Linked DNA regions of Homo sapiens. The protein of the gene in region 3 interacts with the protein of the main gene of each other region in a pairwise test. Each region holds a gene or a part of one and is shown on either strand. Other genes may lie near its edges.

Region 1 (3,500 bases), on a different chromosome or scaffold from region 3:
GCCCCACCCAGGCCGCTGGTGGGGCTGTGGACCTGGGTCCCACAGGTGGAAGCAAAGCCCTGGGCGTGGGGCGTCTGCTTCTGCAGTTGTTTTCCACCCTCCTGCAGTGATGGGGGCAGAGTCAGCCCTTCAGGAAGGAAGCTGCATGGGCCTGGCTGGAATGACCTCTGGCCGGACCTGTGGCCCCGAGGCACGGGCACCCCCTTCCCTGGAGCAGCCCCATCCCGCCTTCTGCAGGCTGTGGGGCTAATGATTCCCTCTCCTGATCTTGCAGGGACAGGAACCTGTCCTCACCCTAACCTCCTTCTCCCCTACCTTGGCCTGGAGGCTGCAGCAGGTGCCATCCCCACCACCACCCACAGAGGCCCCACCAGAGCGGCCAGTGTGGACAAGCGGGAGCGAGCCCAGTTCCAAAACAACCTTCCCTCTCTAGTCTGCAGGAACAATGGAGCCAGGGCTGTTCTCTGGGTGGGGAGTGAGGGAGTGGGGTGGGGTCTGGAAAAAGCCAAGAGTTCCTTCCACCAGCTCAGCCCGGCCCTCTCAAAGAGGTCATCTCCACAGAACTGACCAACCCGATTCCCCTACCCCTCCCACCACCTCACTCCCTTTGGTTTCAGCCAGCAAAGCCCCCCCCCAGGCCAAGGCAGGGGCAAGCCCAGGAGAAGTCAAAGACGGGACAAGTCCATTCACGCAGGCGGGAAGCACCGAGCCCCGACTTCCCACCAGGAGCCCCGGGGTTGGGATGGACAGAGGTGGGCCCTTCACCCGGCAGACCCCCCTCCCAGCTCCAGGAGAAACAGAGGTGGGGCCCCAACTTCCTACCAGGAGCCCCTGGGTGGGGAGACACAGAGGTGAGTGGGGAGGGACAGAGGTAGGCCCTCCGCCCTCCCACCCGGCAGACCCCCTCCCAGCTGCAGGAGGGAGATTGGGGCAGCAGCCTCGAGCCCAGACCTGCCTGGGGGAGGGCCAGAGAGGGGCTCATGGGGTGGGGGTGGGGGAACCAGGGGGCAGGATGAGAACCTGGAGTCAGGAGGGGGCAGGAGAGGGTGGCAGGAATGCGGAGGAGTTGGGGGCAGGAGCTGAGCCCTGGGCAGGAGAGGGGGCTGGCCCCAGCCCTATGGGAGGTCCTCCTGCATCCCAGAAACCTCCCCCAACTCCTAGACTGCCCCACACTGAGGGGAGCCTGGTCTGGGGCTGTCGGGCCCCTCAACCCCAGCACCGATGCTGTCCCCGGTGCCGTGGGACTCTGGGCTTCCCCTAGGACTGCCGTCCTGAGGCCTAGGCAGCTGGCCAGGCAGGGAGGAAGGGAGGGTGCACACGCCGGAATACAGGCGGGCCCGGGACTAGGCCGCCGGGACCCCGGGCTTCAGAGCTGGGCAGGGCCGGGCTGGGAAGGCGCCAGACTCACTCTGACCCTGGCCCCCTGCCCTGTCCCTGTGCCAGGCCCCGGCAGGGGCAGACAACACTCCCTTTCTCTGCTCCTGGCTCCTAGCAGGGAGGGATGGGCCCCGGGCGGCCTGGCCGGCCCTCAGCCAGGAGTCCCTCCTGGGGGCTTCAGGGAGGCTCTAGGACCAGCCTTTGTGAGGTGGGCTGGGAGGGCATGGGCAGTGCCCAGACAGGACAGGGTGGCGAGGGCCGGAGGAGTCGCCCGCTCAGCCGCCAGCCCTGGGCAGCTGGCACTGCGGAGGCCAGGCCACTTCCCTGACAAAGCAGGGGCGGGGGTCTCCTTCCGGAGGGAGCAGCGGGCCTCCCCCGCCCAAAGGTGGCGCAGAGGGAGGGACACATACCTGTCTTAGTTATGCCAGGAATGTGGCTCCCTAGGCAGAGAAGGGGGGAGGAGCCTTTCTGAGGGTTGTTGACTGGGGGAGGGGCCTTGGCTGGGCAGGGCCAGGAAGATCTGGCAGGGCCAGGTGAGAAACTGAGGAAAGGAAGTCCTCAGTAGAGCTGAGTCCAGGTGTGGCCCAGCAGCAGGTGCACCTCAGGCGGTGTCCGGGCAGGGGTGGTGAGGGGCGTGGCCCTCCCCGACCTGGGGAGCTCGGAGGGGCCTTTGTCTCCAGGATGGGGTTCCCATACAAGGTGGGACCCTGTGGTCTCAGGGGTAGCTTCTGAAGACTAGGGGCTGCCCAGACGCCATCCTGTGCCCTGGGAGGTGGGGTCGGAGTCAGATGGGGAGAGGTCAGCTAGGCTCAAGCTCCCTCCATCCATCCCCCTCACTAGGGTGAGGCCTTGGCTACCAGAGGGCCCAGGGTGGGGTTCAATGTCCTTATCTCCTACAGAGCAGGAGATGGACCCACCTCCCACACCACCCAGTGTGAGGGGAGGGGTGGGCACACAGAATTGTCCCTTCTCCAGCCAGACTGGCTCCAGAGACCTTGTCCCTCAGGGCTCACCCCAGGCTTCTGGGAGGCATTTACCCTGTCCCGGCAGCCAGGGACCCCAGCCACCCGAGATATCCCTGGTCTACTTCCACAGCAGAGCTCCACATGTCCCACCGGAAGCTCCTGGGCTCCCCCACTCCTCATGCTGTTTCCCTCCTGAGGCTCCCCTTGGCCCCTGGCTCACCTGCAAGGCCCCTCCCATGACAGTCCTCCCTGGCTAACCCTCCCCTGGCCAGCCCCACCCCAGGGGGTCCGGTGGCCACAGCCCCTCCCGGGTGCTCCCCAAGCTGCATACTGGCTGTGGGTCCCAGGCTCCCCACCTGGAGCTCGTCCCTGAGTGCGACTGCCCACAGCTGGGCTAAGCCACACCCACCTGGCAGGGGCTCCCCACGGACCCTCCTCCCAGCGCTCTGCTCCGCCTGGGCACTCGCTCCAGAGCCAGTGCCTGGCACCCGTAGAGCGGCTTCGGTAAGATGCAGAGCCTCGTTCAGCCGGGGTGACTCTCCTGCCATGTGCCCTCTGACCCTAGAGCAAGTCCTCAGCTACTAAGTCACGGACTCTCGGGCTGGACCCACCTGGCTGTGGGGTTAGTGACCCCCTCTCCTGATCTTGCAGGGACAGGAACCTCTCCTCGCCCTAACCCCCTTCTCCAGCCCCTCCTCAGCTCCTGACAGCCTATCCTGAGTCCACGATGCCCCCATCTTTTCCCCAGACCATGAGTGCCCAGAAGAGGACCAAGGTTATCATGTCCTCCCAGTGGGGGACCCAGGGGACCCTCCTCTGTGCTGCACTGAGGCCCTGGACCCTGAAGGCAGCTTGGGGACCACTGACCACAGGCTGGGGAAAAGGCCGCAGCGTTCCTTATTTTGGGTGCTGCCCCTCCCCCTGCATAGCCCCCAGGCATGCACAGAGAAGGCAAGAGCAGTGGACAGTCCAGGACCCCACAAGGACCCCTCAAGAGCCAGGCTAGTGTCAGGGCAGCAAAGTTTCCTGCCGGCCAACGGAGCAGATCGGAGAGACGGGAAGTCAGGACCCTTACCGTTGCCTTGAGGAGGAAGCACTCTCCAGACCCCCCCACCGACACATCCCTTCCCAGGCAGCCATGAGGGAGCAGACAGGATG
Region 2 (3,158 bases), on a different chromosome or scaffold from region 3:
GAAACCTTCTTTGACAGCCCACATTGATTTTTTGATGTATCTGGACCATGGAATTAAGCACAAAATTGCCCCACTTCTATTTTCATAGATGTTAACTTTTTCTACACAATAATATTTAAAGCTCCTTGAAATCAGAAAATGTGCATTACATGTCCTTTTAATTCCTCATGACACCTAGCATAGAGCTGAGCATGTAGTAGGTGCTTAATTAACCGAATTAATTAACCTAACTAACCTGCTGTTGATTTTCATGCGTTTCAATGCCCTCTGCACAAGTAGAATTTTAGTGGAGAAACTCTGTAGGATTTGATCCAAGTACTTTTTGAATTATGTGATAAGAAATAGTCTTGAAATGTCTATTTTTATTATTTTAAATAATTTTCTTTCAAATAATTTAACATTAACTCTGGAAATATCAAAATTGGCAATGTTTTCTATCAGTCATGAGAATAAGGATTTCACTGGAGAAAAACACTGTATTTTGATTTGAAAATATGAAGTCGGTAAGTGCACTGATATGAATAATAAATAACTGTAAAAGTGCCATGTTTAATTGCAAAGAAAAAACATGTTGGAACTTTGTTTCACTCTTTGATTATTCTGCTAGAAAATTTTATTTTCTTACATTATGGCTAAAAGTTCAAAATAGAAAATTATTTTTAAAGATTTTGTTATTTAAAAATAATGTTATTTGTTTAGGCTAGAATTAGTTAATTGGTAGTATCTGAATTGTGTAAAATTCATTCAGTGGAAATTTCTTACAAATATCAAGAATATGTCAAATTTAAAATATCAAATGTTAAAGAACTATAATATATTCTTTTTTATTCAAAAAAATAATTGTAATAGATTGCATTTTGCATTGGGTCTTTCTTTTCAGAAGTTGGTCATGAGAAATTAATCATTTTCTAATATACTGGCAAAGAAATAATATCACATAACTCTGGAGCTATATGGGAAATTAATATATCAAAAAACAGGATAAATGGGTAAACATTAAAAATCTGTAAACTGTACCACAAGGATGAATTTCCCAATTTAATTCATATTCTCAAAATGAAATATTGGCTTTAAAATTTGATTAAAAATAAAGAGTGCCCAAAGGAGTTTTGAGAAAATTGTAACTGGATGAATAACATCATTAGCATGAAACAGTTACCGTAACTCTGCAAACTGCTTGGTAGGGTGCCATCATTTTCACATGAAGTGGTGAGCCGTATTTAAAATATGTCCAAATTTTAACCTAAAATGAACTTGCTGAGATTTTGTAGGGAGACTGGAAGGCTGAGGCTTTGGGGTCAGGGAGACCAGCTCAGAAGCCACTGAAGGGATCATGGAAGTGACGGGAGCCAGTTTATAGGAAGAGAGATAGGGATGTGAGGAAGCAAAGATAACCCAGGAGACAGTGTGAAGAGGGAAATGGCAGAATTCAGAAAGTAGATTTCACACAGGCAATGAAAGATAGGGAGATGACTCCATACTGCCAGCCCAGAAGTTGGCAAGAATGGTACAACTACTGACACATACTGTGCGGGGAGGTGGGGTCACTTCTCACATACTTATAGGTTTTAGTTTCGGTGTGAACACAAACTGTCTTGTGAATGTAACAATGATGAATTCATGATGTCTGAAAAACTCTTTAGGAGCTCCAGGAATTATTTTGGGTTTGAATTATATGTATGTCTATGTATAATTAATTAACCATCAATGATTAGTGATACCTACTTGGGGGGTATGTTGGGTGGGGGCAGAGGCGGGGGGATGGGAGGCTTGTATTTTCGTGGTCACACACAACTCTATCAGAGTCTGCCAAACTTAATATTTGAGTGATTTCAGGGATGCTACTTAATCTTTCTGCATCTCACTTTTCTCCTCTGTAAAAAATGGAGATGAATATTAATATCTATCTGGCAGTGTTACCAAGAGGAATAAATGAAATAATGTAGCTGGAAGGCCTTACACAATGCCTACACATAAGACACTTTAAATGTTTGCTTTCCTTCCACATGTGGATACCACACAACAACAACAACAACAACAACAACAACAAACTCCCATCTTTCTCAATAGTTAAGGCTGCCTTCAGGATACTTACTCGTAGGTAGAACTCTCCATTTTCATTTCCAGATTTAATCCGAAAAGTATTGATGGTGTTGGCATAAATAGTTGTGGCCTGTATCTGGAAGATGTCTGATGGCACAGACCTATCAGATCGGATGCTCATGTATTTGTAGACTATTGACTGGGGCAGTTCTCGGCACATGGCATTTGAGACTGGGCAAACACATCGGCTGCAGAGACAAACAAAAGTATTCAGCAGTTTGGCTTGGTAAGACCAGAAAATCCTCACTTTCAAAAGTTCTGATTTTTCTTACTTCTCTGGTGTTAGAATGTAGGGATCTTGACAAGGATTTCGTGGATAACAACGGAAGCCGCCATGATAATTCCAACACATTTCATCCTCCCGGCATTCATTTGTGGTCTCACACTCATTTATATCTGTAGAGATGTAGGGTCAAAGAGTTTACTAACTAAACTAATGAACTGATCTAATTAAATCATATAACTGGCAGATTCTGTTTGCAAGGAAGGAGGTGTGAGAGCATCTGGACTGTGTTCAACCTGCTTTTAGACACAAGACTGGGTGTTCATTGTATTGAATTCAGGACAGACAGAGCTGAGACATTCTAGGCAGATTAATATGTGTCATTTCATGATATTTTATCAAGCACCTATTGTTCATCTGTTGAATTCAAACCCCAATGTTAACCACTGACTCTGCCTATATAAAAGTTAAACACCAGTTCTTGTCATCAGGGACATTATAATTGAGGGAATGTGTATATGATTACTTAGAAAGTAAAATGGAATTAAGTAAGAGATAGATAAGTATACTGGGGCATGTGGAGCAGAGTTGGGTAATTTTGCCAGGGGGATTAGGGAAGGCTGAAGGAAGGAAGAGGCATCTCAACGTGGCCTTGAAGGGTGGTGGTTAGATGGAGTTTTCATGGCTGGGGCAGGGAAGGCTTTCCAAGCTGAGAAATCAGGAAGCATAAACTATGGAGGGCAGCTTATCATCTCTTTCAGGAACTTGGGAGAAAGGTAAAGGCTAGAAATCTGGTTTCAGTAAGCTGAAGCATGCTGGGAGTGGATTATAC
Region 3 (3,500 bases):
CACAAATCTATGCATCTAATATTCTAGGCAAGGATTCTGCAAATTATGGCCCATGGACCAAATCTAGCTAAGATTTGTATATAACAGGAGCTAAGAATGACTTTCACATTTTTAAATGGTTGAAAAAATAAAATATGACGTGACACATAAAAATTGCATGAAATTCAAATGTCAGTGTTCATCAACATTTCTTGGAACACAGTCATACCCATTCATTTATATCTATGAGTGTTTTCCTGCTATCATGGCAGAGCTGAGTAGGTGTAGAGACCTGGATGGCTGGCAAAGTAAACAATATTTACTATATGGTCCTTTACAGAAAATTTGCTGATCTCTGTTCCAGGCTATAAAATCACACAGTTGTTTGATGGATCACAGCTCCAAACCTGTGCAGGCTTGTTGGTTTGGCCCCTGACATATCCAAGATTTTGATATAACCTGCCAGGCCAATAGAGAATGCAACCCCATTGGCTAAGAACAATGGAGAAGTCCAATAGGTCATCAAGATGTTGGGATACCTGCCTATCATAACAAGAAAATGTAAAAGGCTTTTCTGAGTTGAAAGTAAGATGGTTCCAGAAGGTCTAAGTGGGAATAAGGATGAATAAAGGTATTCTCTTTAAAAGGATGTATAGTATCTCTAGCAGGGTGCGGTAGCTCACAGCTGTAATCCCAGCACTTTGGGAGGCCGAGGCAGGTGGATCACCTGAGGTCAGGAGCTCAGGATCAGCCTGGCCAGCATGGCGAAACCCCATCTCTACTAAAAATACAAAAATGAGCTGGGCGTAGTGGCACATGCCTGTAATCCCAGCTACTAGGGAGGCTGAGGCACGAGAATAGCTTGAACCCTGGGAGGCAGGAGTTGCAGTGAGCCAAGATCATGCCACTGCACTCCAGCCTTGGCAACAATGAGCCTCTGTCTCAAAAAAAAACAAAAAGAAAAGAAAAGAAAAAGATGTATGATATCTCCTTCTAAAGATGAGAATGTAACTGTCTTCAAAATGGCTACCACTTTCTGAGTACTTACTAGGAGCCTAGGAGTAAGCAAAACTTTTTTGCATTTATTATCCCATTTAATGGTCATCTCCTCTAGACTCAAAGAAGGAGACTGGACCAAGTTGAACACAACCAGAGAGCTCAGGAAATGAGAATCAAGGCCATATTCAAAGCCTAAAGGCTGTGTTCATAACCATTTCCCAACCCAAGGGCAGAAAGCATAAATGATCACCACGAATAAATGACAGGAAAGGTTAAGACTATAGAAATAGTAGAAGCAAGTTTATTTTTATGGCCATAAGCATTATACAGTATTTTATTTACGTATCTCACACTTTCTTTTGACTCATAATGCCCTCTCTTACTTCAGCATTTAAAGTAAAATATGATTCAGTCCTGCCAGACCCTTTCCTATTGACAAAAATCAACACAGGTACCCAACTGTGAAGGCATTTTAAAGACAGCAGAATTAGACAACTAAAGTTATAAGTGTAACTTCCACCCATGAAGTCCCTGGGTTACCTGTGAAGGTCTCAAAACGAAAGGAGTGCTGAAGCACTTTTAGGGGTGATGGACTATAAAGTACATGTGCAGTATTTTAGTTTTTTAATTCAGATTATAAGTGAAGAGAAAATGTTAAATGGAATCTTGCCCACAGAGAGAAATATAATGCTGGTGGGTGGCTATCATTTCTTCCTGCCCAGCAGCATCCATGTCCTCCCCTCTGCCAAATAAACCATCATTTTCCACTTTCCTCTAAATATCTATATTTGGGGACCACTCAATCCTAACTCATTTTTGAAAATCTTTTTCTTAAAAAACAATGTTTTAAGTGTTAATATCTTCATCACACCAATTTGGAAATAATGTACTTATTATCCTATACCATGAATATACATGTTTCCTCAGATGTTTATTAATGGTTCCCCAAACCTGGCTTGTAAGTCCTTCTTGCGGGCCAAAGAGGAGCTAAGACTTTTATACGGGAAACTTCTAGCTAGCCTCCCAACAACTCTACTAGTTAGCCATATCCAGATGAGTAACTGAAGAGTCAAGCAGGGTAAGTAGCTACAGTGAATAAAGGAAACCAAATTTGAATTTTAAGTCTATTTTGACTCAAACTGTGTTTTTCCCATCATGTTCTACTGTCCTGCCAAGGCACAAACACATTTTCTTACAATGATTCCCTTTGAGTCAAATTTCAAATTTTCTGGAGAGAAGAGAGTGGAGCTGAAAGACCCATTTACTCCAACGGCTGGTGTCAAGATCAAATCTTTGCTTATCTACCATCAAACGATCTGGTCTGAATTTTTAGATATAATTTTTTAAAAACACAGCCACAGTACATGCAGGACTAGCACGTCAGACCAGCTTGGCTTATCAACTGATAGGCAATGCTTTGTTGTGGGAATAAAATGGAAGTGCTTTTACACCTCTAAGTCTGAAGACAACTTTATTTATTTATTTGTTTGTTATTTATTTATTTATTTCAGTGTCTTACTCTGTTGCCCAGGCTAGAGTGTAGTGATCTCGGCTCACTGCAACCTCAGCCTCCTGGGTTCAAGTGATTCTCCTGCCTCAGCCTCCTGAGTAGCTGGGATTACAGGCCACACCACCACGCCTAGATAATTTTTTTTGTATTTTTGGTAGAGATGGGGTTTCACCATGTTGGCCAGGCTGCTCTTGAATTTCTGACCTCAAATGATCCACCCGCCTCGGCCTACCTCAAATGATCCACCCGCCTTGGCCTCTCAAAGTGCTGGGATTACAGGCATAAGCCACTGTGCCCAGCCTGAAGATAACTTTAAAAGGCAAGTAACGAGCACACAGATCTACTTTTCAAAAATGTTTTTTTCTCTTTAGAATGGTCATTCTGTGATGGCTCATGACTGTAATCCCAGCACTCTGGGAGGCTGTGGCAGGAGGATCACTTGAGCCCAGGAGGTCAAGGATGCAGTGAGCCAGTTTCATGCAATTGCATTCCAGACTGGGCAACAAAGTGAGACCCTGTTTCAAAAGAAAAAGGAAAAAAGAAGAAAGAAAAGAAAAGAATTCTAACTTCCATTTTATTCAATAAAAAGATGTGTCTCTAATTTTTTTAAGTCCTGGATCTCTTTTCTAAAACAACTACAGACCCTCTTCCAGAAAAATACACATACACAAAAAGTTCTGGTCACAACTACAGGGAGTTCAGGAATCCCTTGAAACCAACCCTTGGAGGGTCACAGACCCCCAGGATAACTCTTGCTCTAAAAGCATAGTACAAAATTCCTTACATTATTTCACAGACCCAGAATAAAGACCATATATAGCTAGCTCTCTCATAATTTTTTATATTTTCAGAAAGCAAATATCAAATAAACACACAAATTTTCTTAACTAGTCTTTCATATTCTCAAAAAAAAAAAAACCCAGAAATCTTATGACTCAAATAAATCAATAAATATAAGGTCATACAAGTTCAAAGTCTGAATCAGTTTTCTTAAAATCTGCTACTTCCATTT
Region 4 (3,500 bases), on a different chromosome or scaffold from region 3:
TGGCTTGCAGCCTCCGGGTCTCTGCCCCTCGGTGACGTGACTGTCCAGCCAGCCTCCCCAGTCTCTCCTCACTGTCCTCACATGGCTGCCGCCATCAGACACATCCCATGCTCAGACACGCACCTACTGCACTAAGGAGCCTCCCGAGCTCAGGGCCCGGCTCTCACAGCTGTGTGCCCAACCTCCAGCCAGCTCCGGGCGACTCCTGACAGCAAGGCTGTGTGTGCCAGTGAGGACGTGAGGGCAAAGGTTGGGAGGGCAAAGACGGGCCGGCGGCACACTCACCTGCACTCCCCAGGCACGGTGCATCCCCCGTGGAGCAAATTACACCCTTGTTTACACACAGCTGCGAACAGAGAGGAGCGAGAGGCACAGCTGCAGCCAGCCTGGCCGCAAGGCCTGTGCCCGGGGCCCTGCCCGAGGCCCTCCCTGCCCTCCACGCAGCCCAGCGGCCCCCTCACCTTCCTTGCACTCCTTGCCCATCCAGCCGTCCATGCAGGCCTTGTTGCCGTACTGGTCGCAGGTGTAGTGGCCGAAAAAGTCGTTGCGGGGCCGGCAGAACTTGTTGCAAGTGGCGCTGTAGTAGTTCTCGTCGCAGCGCACGCGGATCTGCAGCTCCAGGTGCGCCACGTGGCCGCTGAAGTGCAGGCTCTTCCAGCGGTCCTCCGGGTTGATCATGCCGGCATGCGACACTCGCTCGATCAGCAGCTCCTCTTGGGGAGGCGGCAGAGTCAGCACAGGCCAGAGAAACCAGCCCGGCCAGGGGTCCTCCAGGAACAACGGGGACGGGGCAGAAGCCTGCGGCTGCTGCAAGGCCGGGGCACAGCAGGCAGCAGCACACGGAGGGCAGGGCCCCCGGCCAGGCTGCTACAGAAAGCTCAGGGCCCCGAGAGGCCTCTCCCTCCCGCCACCAAGCCTGCGCCCCGCTCCCACCCTAAACGCAGAGGGTCGGGGGGCCCGGCTAGGGGCTAGGGGCCCTGCAGGGAGGGCTGCTGAGACCACAGGCTCCACAGAGAAGGCACGGCTGCTGCCAGGGCGTGAGTCTCACGTCCCACACCTGTGCCCACCCACCTGCAGCCCTGCTCCAACACCTGCACCCACCTGCGCCGTGTCCAGCCCTCGACAGCACGGACATGGTGCTCAGTTGCCCTCCCCTCTCCTGCGCTGTGACTTGCTCCCAGAAGTGCCAAACACCACTACCGTCCCCACCTTAAGACAAGCCTCCCCTCAGGCCCCCAAGACAGGCATAGGTCCCGTGACCCGCTGTCTAAGCCTCACTTTAAGTAAGCCACCAGGAGACCAGGGGCCAGGGGCACCACAGCTGCTGGCGCTGGTATGCAAAGTCCGTGATGCCGGTCCCTGCGCTTAGGCACAGGCTCGACGTTTTGCACAATAAAAGGTGAACGGGTCCTCCAGACCCCACCTCTCCCGCCTCGGGCCAAGGCCTGGGAGGACACTGTGCTGGCCCACTCCCCAAGGGGCGTCCCGGCCGCCCCAGCCTCTCCAGGCTCACGTTGTCAAGAGCCCTGACGACCTTGCTTGGGACTCAGCCCACCTGTCTCTCTGCCACCCCCTCAGGAAACACCCCTGCCCTGAGCCGCTGGGGTCCCCACAACTGCTGCTCCCCACCTGGGCACCCCCACCGCCGTCCCTGCCCTGAAAACAGCCCCTCCACTCTGCTGGCAGCCAGGATGCCCTGGCCCCGCTCTCCCTCCTCCAACCCATTGGCCAACCCCATGCCTCCACTTCTGAGAGCCCCTCTCACCCCCAGACTGCCCCTGGTCCAAGTCACCCTGACACGCCCAGATTCACGTGGCAGCTCCTCCTCGGTCTGTGTCCTGGCCCCACAGCCCACCCTCCATAAGGCAGCCACAGCTTGCCAGGCGGAGCCCGTGTCCTCTCAGTGGCTTGCCAGCCTCCATGATCTGAGCCCAGCCCCGGCTGCTCCCCCTGCACAGCCAGCCCGCTCCTGCCCAGACCTTCACACGAGCTGCTCCCTTGGCCTGTGGGTGCTTCTGCATTCACCCATGGAAGTCATCCCGTTACCCCTGCAGGGCCCTGCAGAGCCCCTGCCTCAGGGAGAGGGCCACCAAGGCTCCATGCTCCAGTACAGACAAGCAGAGGGGGCCACAAAGCCAGAGACACACTCAAGGGTGTCCCCTCCACTAAGTCACTGCCATGGGCCCCAAAAGAGCACACCCAAGAGGAGAACAACATAGGCAAAGCCAGGACTGGGGAAGAGAGTGCATGCACAGCTCTGCAAGTCCCAAACGTGGCAGAGCTTCCTGGCAGCCAAAGCAAAAAGGGAAACAGCACACATGATCCTCAGGGTAAAGCAAGGCTTTGTCCCAAGCAGACAGAGGAGCTGGGCCCTGCCACAGGCACGCTGAAGCTGAGAGGAGCTGCCACCTGGCCCAGGGCTCACTCACCATTCGGGGTGGTATCGTTGTCCCAGTCCCAGGCCTCCACGATGAGGGTAAAGGAGCGCTGCAGACATGGGGAGGCGGGTCAGGTACCTGAGGCCACACCTGCCTGCCTCGTTCAGGGTGGGACAAGGCCCAGGGCTCAGACGCTGCCCCTGGGTCTGCCAGGCTCTGGCCCTTCCTCCCCAGCCAGGGACCCACCACCCTCCTCATCCTCAGGCCACATCCTCTGCAGACCCAAAAATGACCCAGCTCAAGGGAGGGAGACTGCCCCTCCAGGCCACGCGGGCTCAGGGGCCTGGGCTCCCTACCGTTGGGGTGCCAGAGGCCCAGCCTGCCCTGAGCTGGCTCAAGTCAGCACGGAGCACAGGAAGAGCGACCGGGGGGAGAGGTGGGCAAAGGGCAGCCTGGCTGGAGTGGCCACAGACAGGGGCCCCATGGGCAGCCGGGACCCGAGCGTTTCCTGTGGAACGCCCCTTGGTGCCTCACTGGGGGTGACCACGGGGGAGAACGTGGGGCCCCATCACCACGCTGGCGGCCTCCACCAAGTGCACGGGGTGGCCAAGTACAGGGCGCCCAGCCAGAGGCCCCAACAGGCCGGAGCTCAGGTCCTGCAGGCATACAGCACACAGGCAAACCCACACCTACCTCCACCCTCACACAGAACAGGTGGCAGGAGGGGCCCTTGCGGTACAGTTGGGGAAACTGAGGCCAAGAGGTCCTGGGACTGCCCAGCACAGCCTCAGACCATGGCCACTATGCCCCCTCTGCCCCCGGGCCACCTGGCCCTTGTACCCCAGCCATGGCGACAGGCGATGCTGTCAGCCAAGCAAAGAGACCACAGGGCTGGCCCCCTGCTCCGCCTAGTGCAGCCCACGGAGACCGTCACTCACAGACATGCTCAGACAGGTGGGACCCCCGGGACATGCCCTGTACTACCCAGCACTGGGTACCCACATTCCACAGCCTCTCAGCCCTCACTGCCCAGGAACCCCCCAGTCTACCCCTGGTGTGCTCTTGACCCCTGAGCCCAGCCCTGGCTCCTTCCAGGTGGGGCCCAGAGGAGGGGGCTGGGGC
Region 5 (3,500 bases), on a different chromosome or scaffold from region 3:
ATTCTTTCTTGCCAAGTGCCTTTCCAACCTCCTCCCACGTCTCCTTCCTCCCCAGATATTGTGTGCCTTCCTGTTGTTGCCCAGGTTCCCAAAGTCCTATCTTTCTAAGAAGGGACCTGTTTTTCTGAATTATTCTCTTCCTCTTTCTATATAATCAAATCTCTAATTTGTCCCATAGTGAACGGTACAGTCTTGAAAATGGCATAAGGGGTTCTAAATCGCCAGGTACCCCTGCTGCTCATCCAACCTCATCTCCTGTTTGTCCTCTCACTGTGCCTCAGCCACACTGACGTTCTTACTCTTCCTGGGACACACAAGCCTGCGTCAGCAGTTCCTTCTGCTGGGATGCTCTTCTCCAAAGTATCTCCGTGGCTCGTCCCCTCACTCCTTCAAGTCTTTGTTCAGCCGTAAACTTCTCAATCATGCCCATCCATTCTCACCACATTGTAACTGCTACCCACTTCTTCTAAGCATTCCAATTCCCTCTTACTCTGTTCTTGTTTTCCCCTCATAGCACATATCACCCTTTACTACTATATAATTTGCTTCTTTATAATGTTTGTTACTTATGTTCTGTCATCCTCCACCACCATATCAACTAACAAGGTCAGGAACCTGTGTCTTTCCTCTTTACTGACATATCCCAAGCTGCTGAAGCAACAGGTGCTCAGTCAATGTTTCAGTGAATTTACTAGAACTATAAGTATGAAGAGTCTCCTATATTATGTCTTAGGTAGACAAGAAATAGATAAGGAAGAGGAAAGATACAGCAATCAAGGTAGAAAATGACTAGAGGAACAGGCATGGTTTTAAAAAGAGATCCACTGCTATGATATCAAGACCTGAGTGGACTGGAATGAGGTGACCTGGATTCTTGCTTTAAGTTTACCAATGACCTTAGCCAGGTCACTTAAGCTCTGGGGCCTCAGACGTTCTTTATCTACAAAATGAGAAAACTAAACTAGGTGACCTTTTGGGTCTTATCCTACTACCCAATTCTGTGTTTGGGTTTTACTTTAGGAAGACCAATTAACACTTACGGAAACATTGCCTGGTACTAACTGGCATCAATTTCACCTAATGTCTCCTGAACTCCCCATCTCCCACCAAAGGTCCTGGGCTGGGATGATGTCTTTTAGTCTATTTCCATCTTTTCCTCAAGGGCCTTATGTTCGTATAGGTCTCTTAAAACTCAACCCAAGAAGCTAAACTGTGGACTGGGGTTTCAGAAGCCAGGGCTTTGCTCCTCCATCGTAAAATCTGAGTAAACCCACATTGTTTTATTTTTCGCATCTCTAAAATTGAGATACAGCAATGGGTCGGCAGATAATATTAGACAGAGGGGAATAAGGTGCATTTGATGGAGCTCTGCTAGAAATAGAAGCACATCAGGTGCCATTTCAGGAAATTACACGGGAATTTGGCTCATTATCCATCTTGCTAAGCTGCCACATCGTAAAGTCACAGACTATTAATAGAATACCATTGATAACTCAGAGTGTGCAGGTAGAGTTCCTCCATGTTGATTGTCGTACACATTGTCTCCAGTTTCTGAAGTAGCCATGATTTGTTTGTGTTTTAAGGTACACTGTTTTCAAAGAACAGCCTTTAAAGCTCTTTTGAATTCAAAGATCTTTCAGTTACTCAAGGAATGGGTCCAGTTTTCAGATTCTCCACGCCATGGGTGCATCTTCCCTTCAGCTTTCTTCATTTTGGTCATTGCTCCAGATGTTCATTGTTTAACACAAGTGGGTAGGGAGACGGAGAAGAAGGGAATTTCAGGCTCATATTTTGGTGTCATGGGCAGATCTTGGGTGAGGTTTTCATTGTTAGTTAAACTAAGTTTGAAGGTTTACACTGAATTTCTTTCCCTACCGTCCTCTTTGGCTACTTAAATAGATCATCAGGACTGTTTGTTCTTCTGTTGAAAGTGCCCCACACTGCCCTGGGCATAAGCTAAATTCTTTCTCTCCCTTTTAGAAGAGAAGCCAGATTGCTCCAAGGCCCGCTGTGAAGTCCAGTTCTCTCCACGTTGTCCTGAAGATTCTGTTCTGATCGAGGGTTATGCTCCTCCTGGGGAGTGCTGTCCCTTACCCAGCCGCTGCGTGTGCAACCCCGCAGGCTGTCTGCGCAAAGTCTGCCAGCCGGGAAACCTGAACATACTAGTGTCAAAAGCCTCAGGGAAGCCGGGAGAGTGCTGTGACCTCTATGAGTGCAAACCAGGTATGCACGAGCTCTGTCTCAGCAGCCTTGTTCCTTTGCATCAGAGGGTAGCAGATCCCTCCTCAGCCACCCCTGGCCTCTCCTTTCACACGAAGATGGGCCTTCTCACCGGTGTCCTGTGAATCTGCCACTTTGGGCTAATGGCAGCTTGACTTCTGGCCTTCTAGTCAGAGAACCAGAGTGATCATCCACTGGTACATAAGCGCCTTCGGAGAGCGAGCGTGTCTTTTCCTCTTTTCTTCTTTTTTTCCTTCAAAGTATGCTTGACTGGGGAGGTAGGGTTAAAATTTATGGTACTATGGCAATCTGCTTCATTTCCCCAGAGAAGGTCAGAGACCTTATTTGCAGCTATATCTGCCACTTTGAATTATTACATTTAAAAACAATCATCATACGTAAAACAGAAAGTTATTTTTAGATGAATACATGCATCAAAACGCCAGAAGTTTCATAATGCAACACTCAGCCCCAATCTTTCTCTTTGCCAATTCCCCCGCATCTGCCCTCTTTACTTTATAGCATGTGCCAAGTCATCTTTGACTGTTTACTCACCCTCTTTGCCAACATTTGATGTACTGTTGTATCCCAGCTGTTTCTTGCTTTATATTATTTCTAACATCCTTGCTCTTGTGGCAGCATTTCCGATGTGGTCTGTGAACACTTCTGAGTTATAGCGATTTCCTCTTTGCAAGTTTCTAATCATCGGCCAGTTGTTTTTTTGTTTGGGTTTTTCTTTTTCTTTCTTTCTTTTTTTTTTTTAACTGCTAGATAAACGCTCCAAGCAAAGTGATCCTTTGTCCGTCTCTTGAACTATTCTATCAATCAGAAATGCCTCTGGCTAACTGTCACTATCCATGTAACCACTGCTGGTTTAATTCTTTCTCTGTCTTCATTGTAGCTCTTAAATATCTCATCCCCACCTCTTTCCTTACACAGAAAATTTGAGGAATATTGCAGTTCTATAGCATTAACTGGAGTAACATGTCGACACTAGGACTGGGTTTGTGGAAGCAAGGAGACTTTGGACATTTGTCAAGAGCTAGTATTTCATTTAGGGACTCCAAAAGCAAGTAAATATAACAATAAACGGTGCCTCTCTGTTTGCCCCTTTCAGTTTTCGGCGTGGACTGCAGGACTGTGGAATGCCCTCCTGTTCAGCAGACCGCGTGTCCCCCGGACAGCTATGAAACTCAAGTCAGACTAACTGCAGATGGTTGCTGTACTTTGCCAACAAGGTTAGTTTGCCATTAGTTTGTCAAGTTTTCTCCTCATTTGTT
Region 6 (3,500 bases), on a different chromosome or scaffold from region 3:
ACTATTTTAAGATTCTGTTTGCTATACATAAGACTAGTTAAATTCATAAGAGGATGTCACCTCATATAAATCTTGTTGATTCAAGAATCAAGTAAACATCAGTTTCTGCTACCACCTGTCTTTGTGTGATGTGTAGAGACATTTGAGTGGAGCAAAGGGTAAGGTAGATTAGTCTCAGTGAGATGAAAGGGCTAACCACTGTCTCTGGAGACTAAGATGCTTCCCCTAATTAATTCTTTTTAAGAATGCAGACTAGGGGGCCTATGAGTTTGACATGAGCTCTAGCAATCTAGGCTAGTGTGAACAGCCAGTTTTACAATCTATCCAGATGATTCAGGGCAGGACACTTTGTGGCTACCACTCTTGGGCTAGAAAAAGAGGAAGGTACGCAGTATCAATAAAATGACCTCCTTCACAAAGACAGCGAGTGAATGTCGATGTGAACCAGCCTTTCTGTGAGGAGGAATGGAGTTCACCAATGGGACTGCCAGTACTCTCACTTCTTTCTTCATTCACTCAGCAAGTAGTTGTCACACATCTACTGTGTGCCAGGCCTGATCTAGGCACTGGGTCCATAAAGTCTTAGATGAGGCCTTGATCTGTGCATACCTTATTTCCTCTTACAGGACTTGCTAAAGCAGTGTGTCCTCAACAAGTACTTTAAGAAGGCAGTTTTCGGCTGGGCACAGTGGCTCACGCCTATAATCCTAGCACTTTGGGAGGCTGAGGTGGGTGGATCATGAGGTCAGGAGATCGAGACCATCCTGGCTAACACGGTGAAACCCCATCTCCACTAAAAATACAAAAAAATTAGCTGGGCGTGGTGGCGGGCGCCTGTAGTACCCAATACTCAGGAGGCCGAGGCAGGAGAATAGCGTGAACCTGGGAGGCGGAGCTTGCAGTGAGCTGACATCGCGCCACTGCACTCCAGCCTCGGTGACAGAGCAAGCCTCCATCTCAAAAAAAAAAAGCAGTTTTCAAGCAAACTAGTTCACAACCTCAAGTTTTCTTATCTCCCTCAAGGAATCTAGAAACTTCACCATAAACTGTCTCTACCAATTATCCTACCTTTTGGGTTTCCTTTAGCCAAGGGTCATACTCCTCGAGCACGCTTCACATCTGTACAACTGAAGTAACCCTCAGGTCAGGAAAACCTCAGAGAAGAGGCTGGGCTTTACTGAGCAACAAGAGCTTAGAGTCATAATCTGTTCCATCATTTGATTTTCGGAAAAGCTAACTTTGCCTCCTGGAAACACAAGAGTATTATCCACCCTAGGGGCTATTGCATTTTCAGAATGCTCGCTTGAAGTATTGGTTAAAAAATACAAGAATAAATATACACAGTAAAAGTTCCCATCAGAAACAATTTAACAAAGTCTTCAGTTGATTCTAGAGCAAGCCGACCAGTGTTTCGGAACTATTGTGTATATCTAGGCGATTCTTACACTGGAGATCACACACTGGCTAGTAAATCACAGTGAGAGGATACCCGCCTGTGGTCAGCTTAGCCTACCCTTCTAGTAGCCAGACTCCTTCCTGAGCACTTTATTTAACTCCTGTGGGGTCCTGTTAAGGCTTCTAGGTGGCAGGGTAGTAAAGATGTATAATGGCAGTTGCCAGGAGGCCTTTCTGTACACTCAAAGAAGCTTACCCTTATGGCCAGCTGAGACCACTGAGTGAGTTTAAGAAACCTGAACCTTGAGTGGTGTAAACCGCACCTCCACCCCATATTACCATTGGCCTTGGCTTTACTGGCCCACTCGGAGACGTCATCCTGAGCCCGTCCGTCGGTGAACACAATGGCTGCTCTGGGCACCCTTGTGGAAAGGGGCCTGGCCCCTTCTCCTTGGGTAAAACTTCTCTCAAACATGTGTTTCAGGGCCAGCCCAGTCATAGAGCCCTTTCCCATGTATTTCATGTGGGCCACGGCTTTTTTCATGTCTTTGGCTGAGTTGAAGTTTCTCAGAGTGAACTCTGTGTGGACCTGTGTGGAATACTGGAGCAGCCCCACTCGAGCGGCTTTGGGGGAAATTGTCAAGGAATCTATAATTCCAGTGACAAACTGCTTCACGACCTCAAAATTCTCTTCTCCAAGACTCTTGGATCCATCGATCACAAAGACCAGGTCAATTGGGCCTTCAGTGCATTCTATATGAACAGAAGGAAAGTTGACATAGTTGAATAAAAAATCATTTATGCACAAGAGTAGAATAAAATGATGCTTCAATTGGAGGCATAACCACTTTGGGGAACCAGTTTTGTTCTTTAGATAATACACAGGATAGATGAGTTGTTGGGAGGGCCACAAGCAACAATAATTTTCACGTATACTTTTATGGTTGGCTTGTCATATTGATAAAAATAGTATTTTTCACAAGCAAAACGGCAGATATACAATTGTCTAGGAAACCAAGTCTACATTGTACCCTGGAACACTGACAGGTCTGGGAGGAGCTGGGTGTAGAGTACACTGAAGGGTCTAACAATACCCAAAAGACTCCTAGAACTTTAGGAGGGTGACATCACCCTAGTGCTGGCATTCTGACAGTCAATGGAGAAAGAGATTTCTTCAGCTCAGCCATCACCTCTGCTGGGGAGCCTTCCTAGTAACTCAGCTTGTATTGCTTTCTATATACCCCAAACACTACTAATTTATTCAACCAAAAATTTATTGAGGACCTGCTTTGTACAAGGCCATGGGCATAGCAGGATTGCAATAGTGACCAAGACACAATCCCTAACACCAAGCTGCATACAATCTAATGTACTCTATATAGTGTTCCACATTGTACAATAATTATTTAATGATGTGTTTCCTCCTCCAGTCTGTGAGTTCCTCCTCAGCAGGGACTGTGTTTCATTCATTTTTGTGCCCCACCCCCCAATACTTGGCACAAAAAAAGTGTTCAGTAAATGTGTGGTGACAGACTAAGTGAATGAGGTGATGTTCATTGGGTAGCACACCTGTAAGTACCCTACTGACCTATTAAAGCTTACAAAATAATTAGCCTTAGTGCAGTGGCTCACGCCTATAATCCCCAGTGCATTGGGAGGCTGAGGCAGGAGGATGGCTTGAGCACAGGAGTTCAAGAACACCCTGGGTAACAGAGTGACTGTCTTTCTTAAAAAAAGAAAAATTAGCTGGGCATGGTAGTGCATGCCTGTAGCCCTAGCTACTTGGGAGGCTGAGGCAGAAAGATTACCGGAGCCCAAGAATTACAGGTTGCAGTAAGCTATGATTGTGCCGCTGCACTTCAGTCTGGGTGACAGAGCAAGACCCTGCATCTCTCCGTAAAAAAAAAAAAAACAAAATTAAAAAAAAAGTTATCACCATAAATTCTTTACATGGAAGCTTTTCAGGCATTTTTTTTTTTTTTTTTTTTTTGAGATTGAGTCTTGCTCTGTTACCCAGGCTGAAGTGCAATGGTGTGATCTTGGCTCACTGCAACCTCCACTTCCTGGGTTCAAGTGATTCTCCTGCCTCAACCTCCCAAGTAGCC
Region 7 (3,500 bases), on a different chromosome or scaffold from region 3:
CTTTGATTATTTCTTTAGGTTAGATTCTCAGACCTGGGATTAAAGAGAACAATATATTTGTGTGTGTATATGGGGGTGCGGATAGTATGTGTTGCATTGTGTATTTTTTAATGATATTAACAGTGCACAAAAATAATAATTCCAGTATATCTCTGTCAGCATTAGAAATTATTAGGAGAAACTTTTTTACTATAGTATGTGAAAATAATTATTTATAATTTTAGTTTACAATTAAGGTTCAATTATTTAAAGGCTCAATGATTTCCTCTTTTATTTTAGTAGGTGTACTTTTTTAGTGAGTTGTTTATTTATCCTTTGCAGATTTATTTATGGGGGAAATAATTGCTTTCCAAAAAAGTTTTAGAGGCAAGGTCTTACTTTGTCACCCAAGGTGGAGTGCAGTGGCATGATCATGGCTGACTGCAGCCTTGAACGCCTAGGCTCAAGTGGGCCTTCTGAGCAGTTGGGATTATAGGTATGAGCCTCTGCACCCAGCAGTAAGTGCTTTTCTTATTAATGTTTATGTTTTTAATCTAACAAAGAAACCAAATCTGCTGAAGCTGTTTTTCTAGTATGTAGTTGTGACTTTTTTTTTTTTTTTGCTAATTTTATGTATCTATAGAAGCACTAATCTTTTCTTTCAGGTATATTTTATCACTGATAAATTTTAAAAAGTATCTCCCTTCTAGAGTTTTGATAAATATTTAATTATATTTTCTTTATTTTAATTTATTTTAATATTTAACACTTTTTCCATGTGGAATTTGTTTTGATATGTAACATAATTTTTATAACTGTGTGTTATTTCCCTCAAATTGTTATTTAGTCATTCCATTATTTGTGAAATAATGTTTTCTTCCTCCATTGATCTGCAAAGTCCTGATCATATATTAAAAGCTTTATTATAATATTGCTTATTTATAGGTATTTTTTCCTTAGATCGAGTTATCTATTCTAATGTTAGAACAGAGGTCCACTGGCACAACTTCAAGTTTGTAGTTTTTGATAGATAAAGGCAACATTTACAAATGTCTGGTACCTACCCACCAACTACTTTCTCTCTCTCTCTCTCTCTCTCTCTCTCTCTCTCTCTCTCTCTCTCTCTCGTTCCCACTCTTGCCATGTGAAATGCCTTCCCCGAAGCAGACCATGGTACTGTTTCCTATAGACCCTGCAGAACTGTAAGCCAATTAAACCCCTTTTCTTTGTAAATTACCCAAGCTCAAGTATTTCTTTATAGCAATGCAAGAATGGCCTTACACAGTGTGCTATCTAATATGACAGCCAGTAGCCACATGTGGCTATTGTGCAGTTGAAATGTGGCTAGTGTAACTAATAAATTAAAATTTTCATATTATTTAATTTTAATTAATTAAAATTTAAATAGCCACATGTGGCTACTGACTAGCATATTGAACAACAGAGTGCCAGATAATAAGCTGATAGAGAATAATTTCCAAGGGTGACTGTGTCTGGTTTTGCTTATCATTATACACCTGGTACCAGCACAATGCCCCACACGGTGTGTATTTATCAATTAGAAACAAATAACTCAGAGGGGAGTAGAATGGAGACATAATAAATAAAATAGTGCTTTCAAAGCACTAAATTGTGAAGAATGCTTACCTCTAATGCAATACTTGAAGCTTGTTTTGCATAAACTTTATTTTCAAAATAACACAAAATAAATGTAATAAAAATGAGTACTTGAGATAAATTTGACAAAACTGAGCATATTTTTATGACTCATATTTAATAACAAGAGATAAAGAAAATAGTATTTAATAGTAACTTCTATGAATCAGTACTTATCTGACAGAAAGAAATGACTTTAATATCAAAATACACTTTCTGGAATATATTCCTATCAAAAGCTGAGAGATTATAGTAGTTGTTTATAAGGTAGTGAATGACAAACTCATTCAAATACTTTTTTTTTTTTTTTCTGAGATGGAGTCTCGCTCTGTTGCCCAGGCTGGAGGGCAGTGGCACAATCTCAGCTCACTGCAAGCTCCACCTCCCGGGTTCACGCCATTCTCCTACCTCAGCCTCCTGAGTAGCTGGGACTACAGGCACCCACCACCATGCCTGGCTAATTTTTTGTATTTTTTAGTAGAGACGGGGTTTCACCGTGTTAGCCAGGATGGTCTCGATCTCCTGACCTTGTGATCCGCCCACCTCAGCCTCCCAAAATGCTGGGATTACAGGCGTGAGCCACCGTGCCCGGCCTCATTCAAATTCTTTACCCCAGAAAACAGTCTGAGTTGTTTTCCTGCCTATTACTGTATGCATTTTTCTTACTGGAAATATCCATCTGTGCTATATTTCATTTTTGTCCATCACTCAATATATATTTTTGTCACTATTGCTCAGAAGAATAATCTCACAGAAAGATTAAGGGTGTAAGAGGACTCAACTCTATTTGGTAATTAAATGACAGAAAGTATTTCCCTGTTAGTCATTAGTGCTAAGTTTCAAGATATGCACTATTAAGTATACACATATTAAATGTATATTAAAGGAACATCGCATATACATTATTAGTAACTTTTAGTAATAGTAACTTTTAAATTTGCTAATGCATTTCATAAAACAGCAGTAAATGTTCACTCAAAAAGCTTTGCTTGATTGACAAATTGCATTGATTGAAAGAACTAGAAATTTGAGCTTGAAATAGATAAAAATGGCATCTCAAAGCTTAAAGCATTTTATATTTCTTTGTCCTGTTACTTCAATCTACTCTGGTAAGAATTTGTAGTAAGTGAATCTGAATTAAATTGCTCTGTAGGAAAAAAATTACAAAATGGAAATGCTCACTTAAAAAAATCAGAGCAGTTACAGATATCTGGCTATGTTATGCTGAGAAAAATCTGACACGTCTGCTATTTAGTTGTTACTGTTAAGCCTTCAGGTTATTTATTTAGTTTTAGTGTTGATTACAAAATTATGACTATAAAGCATAATGGCCACAAAATTAAATTTTTGTAGAAATAATAATCAAATTAGAATGCTTCCAACATTGTCACTAATCTACAAACTCTATATGCTCTGCCTATATTCATTGTATTTGTGCTCTCATTGAAGCAAAAGGCACAGAGCTCTATTTTCCAATGAGAATAAGGAGAAAGAGCTTTGTAATGGTTTTTCTCCAACTGTATGAATAAAATATGGTAAAAAACAGATCTTAAATGTTTCAACTCAATGTAACTGACCACAACAAACCAAGAAATATGCCCATCTTTGCCATATTGATTTCCACTTTGGAAAATGTAATAAATCTACTTCACTTATGTATCTTACGGACCTTGTAAAAGAACCAGCTAAAAATCAATAAAACAATATTGTCTCCTATCATGAAAGAAGAAACATGAGGTTTGTTGTTTCAGCTTTTTTAAAAGATGTGTACGGTTAGATATCTAGGACAATTTAAGTAGCTTGTTTCTATGTTGGTGATATAAATAACGGATCATTCTGGTTTTAGTCCATGCACTATCCTTGAA

What was found.
Region 1: the proteins of ATXN7 (region 3) and AGRN interact in a two-hybrid assay, tested with the Homo sapiens proteins (one study listed by BioGRID and IntAct).
Region 2: the proteins of ATXN7 (region 3) and EFEMP1 interact in a two-hybrid assay, tested with the Homo sapiens proteins (one study listed by BioGRID and IntAct).
Region 4: the proteins of ATXN7 (region 3) and JAG2 interact in a two-hybrid assay, tested with the Homo sapiens proteins (one study listed by BioGRID and IntAct).
Region 5: the proteins of ATXN7 (region 3) and CRIM1 interact in a two-hybrid assay, tested with the Homo sapiens proteins (one study listed by BioGRID and IntAct).
Region 6: the proteins of ATXN7 (region 3) and MATN2 interact in a two-hybrid assay, tested with the Homo sapiens proteins (one study listed by BioGRID and IntAct).
Region 7: the proteins of ATXN7 (region 3) and NELL2 interact in a two-hybrid assay, tested with the Homo sapiens proteins (one study listed by BioGRID and IntAct).

What each region holds. Positions count from the first base shown.
Region 1 is NC_000001.11:1,023,120-1,026,619, reverse strand, and holds part of AGRN (agrin isoform 2 precursor), read right to left. Parts: intron 1-3,500. UniProt on the Homo sapiens protein: Isoform 1, isoform 4 and isoform 5: neuron-specific (z+) isoforms that contain C-terminal insertions of 8-19 AA are potent activators of AChR clustering.
Region 2 is NC_000002.12:55,868,625-55,871,782, forward strand, and holds part of EFEMP1 (EGF-containing fibulin-like extracellular matrix protein 1 precursor), read right to left. Parts: intron 2,500-3,158; coding exon 2,376-2,499; intron 2,292-2,375; coding exon 2,096-2,291; intron 1-2,095. UniProt on the Homo sapiens protein: Binds EGFR, the EGF receptor, inducing EGFR autophosphorylation and the activation of downstream signaling pathways. May play a role in cell adhesion and migration. May function as a negative regulator of chondrocyte differentiation.
Region 3 is NC_000003.12:63,866,867-63,870,366, reverse strand, and holds part of ATXN7 (ataxin-7), read right to left. Parts: exon of another isoform or gene 3,454-3,500; intron 1-3,453. UniProt on the Homo sapiens protein: Acts as a component of the SAGA (aka STAGA) transcription coactivator-HAT complex. Mediates the interaction of SAGA complex with the CRX and is involved in CRX-dependent gene activation.
Region 4 is NC_000014.9:105,155,277-105,158,776, forward strand, and holds part of JAG2 (protein jagged-2 isoform a precursor), read right to left. Parts: intron 2,488-3,500; coding exon 2,430-2,487; intron 714-2,429; coding exon 462-713; intron 347-461; coding exon 286-346; intron 1-285. UniProt on the Homo sapiens protein: Putative Notch ligand involved in the mediation of Notch signaling. Involved in limb development.
Region 5 is NC_000002.12:36,439,278-36,442,777, forward strand, and holds part of CRIM1 (cysteine-rich motor neuron 1 protein precursor), read left to right. Parts: intron 1-1,980; coding exon 1,981-2,223; intron 2,224-3,337; coding exon 3,338-3,458; intron 3,459-3,500. UniProt on the Homo sapiens protein: May play a role in CNS development by interacting with growth factors implicated in motor neuron differentiation and survival. May play a role in capillary formation and maintenance during angiogenesis.
Region 6 is NC_000008.11:98,026,064-98,029,563, reverse strand, and holds part of MATN2 (matrilin-2 isoform a precursor), read right to left. Parts: intron 2,149-3,500; coding exon 1,735-2,148; intron 1-1,734.
Region 7 is NC_000012.12:44,516,316-44,519,815, forward strand, and holds part of NELL2 (protein kinase C-binding protein NELL2 isoform b precursor), read right to left. Parts: intron 1-3,500. UniProt on the Homo sapiens protein: Plays multiple roles in neural tissues, regulates neuronal proliferation, survival, differentiation, polarization, as well as axon guidance and synaptic functions.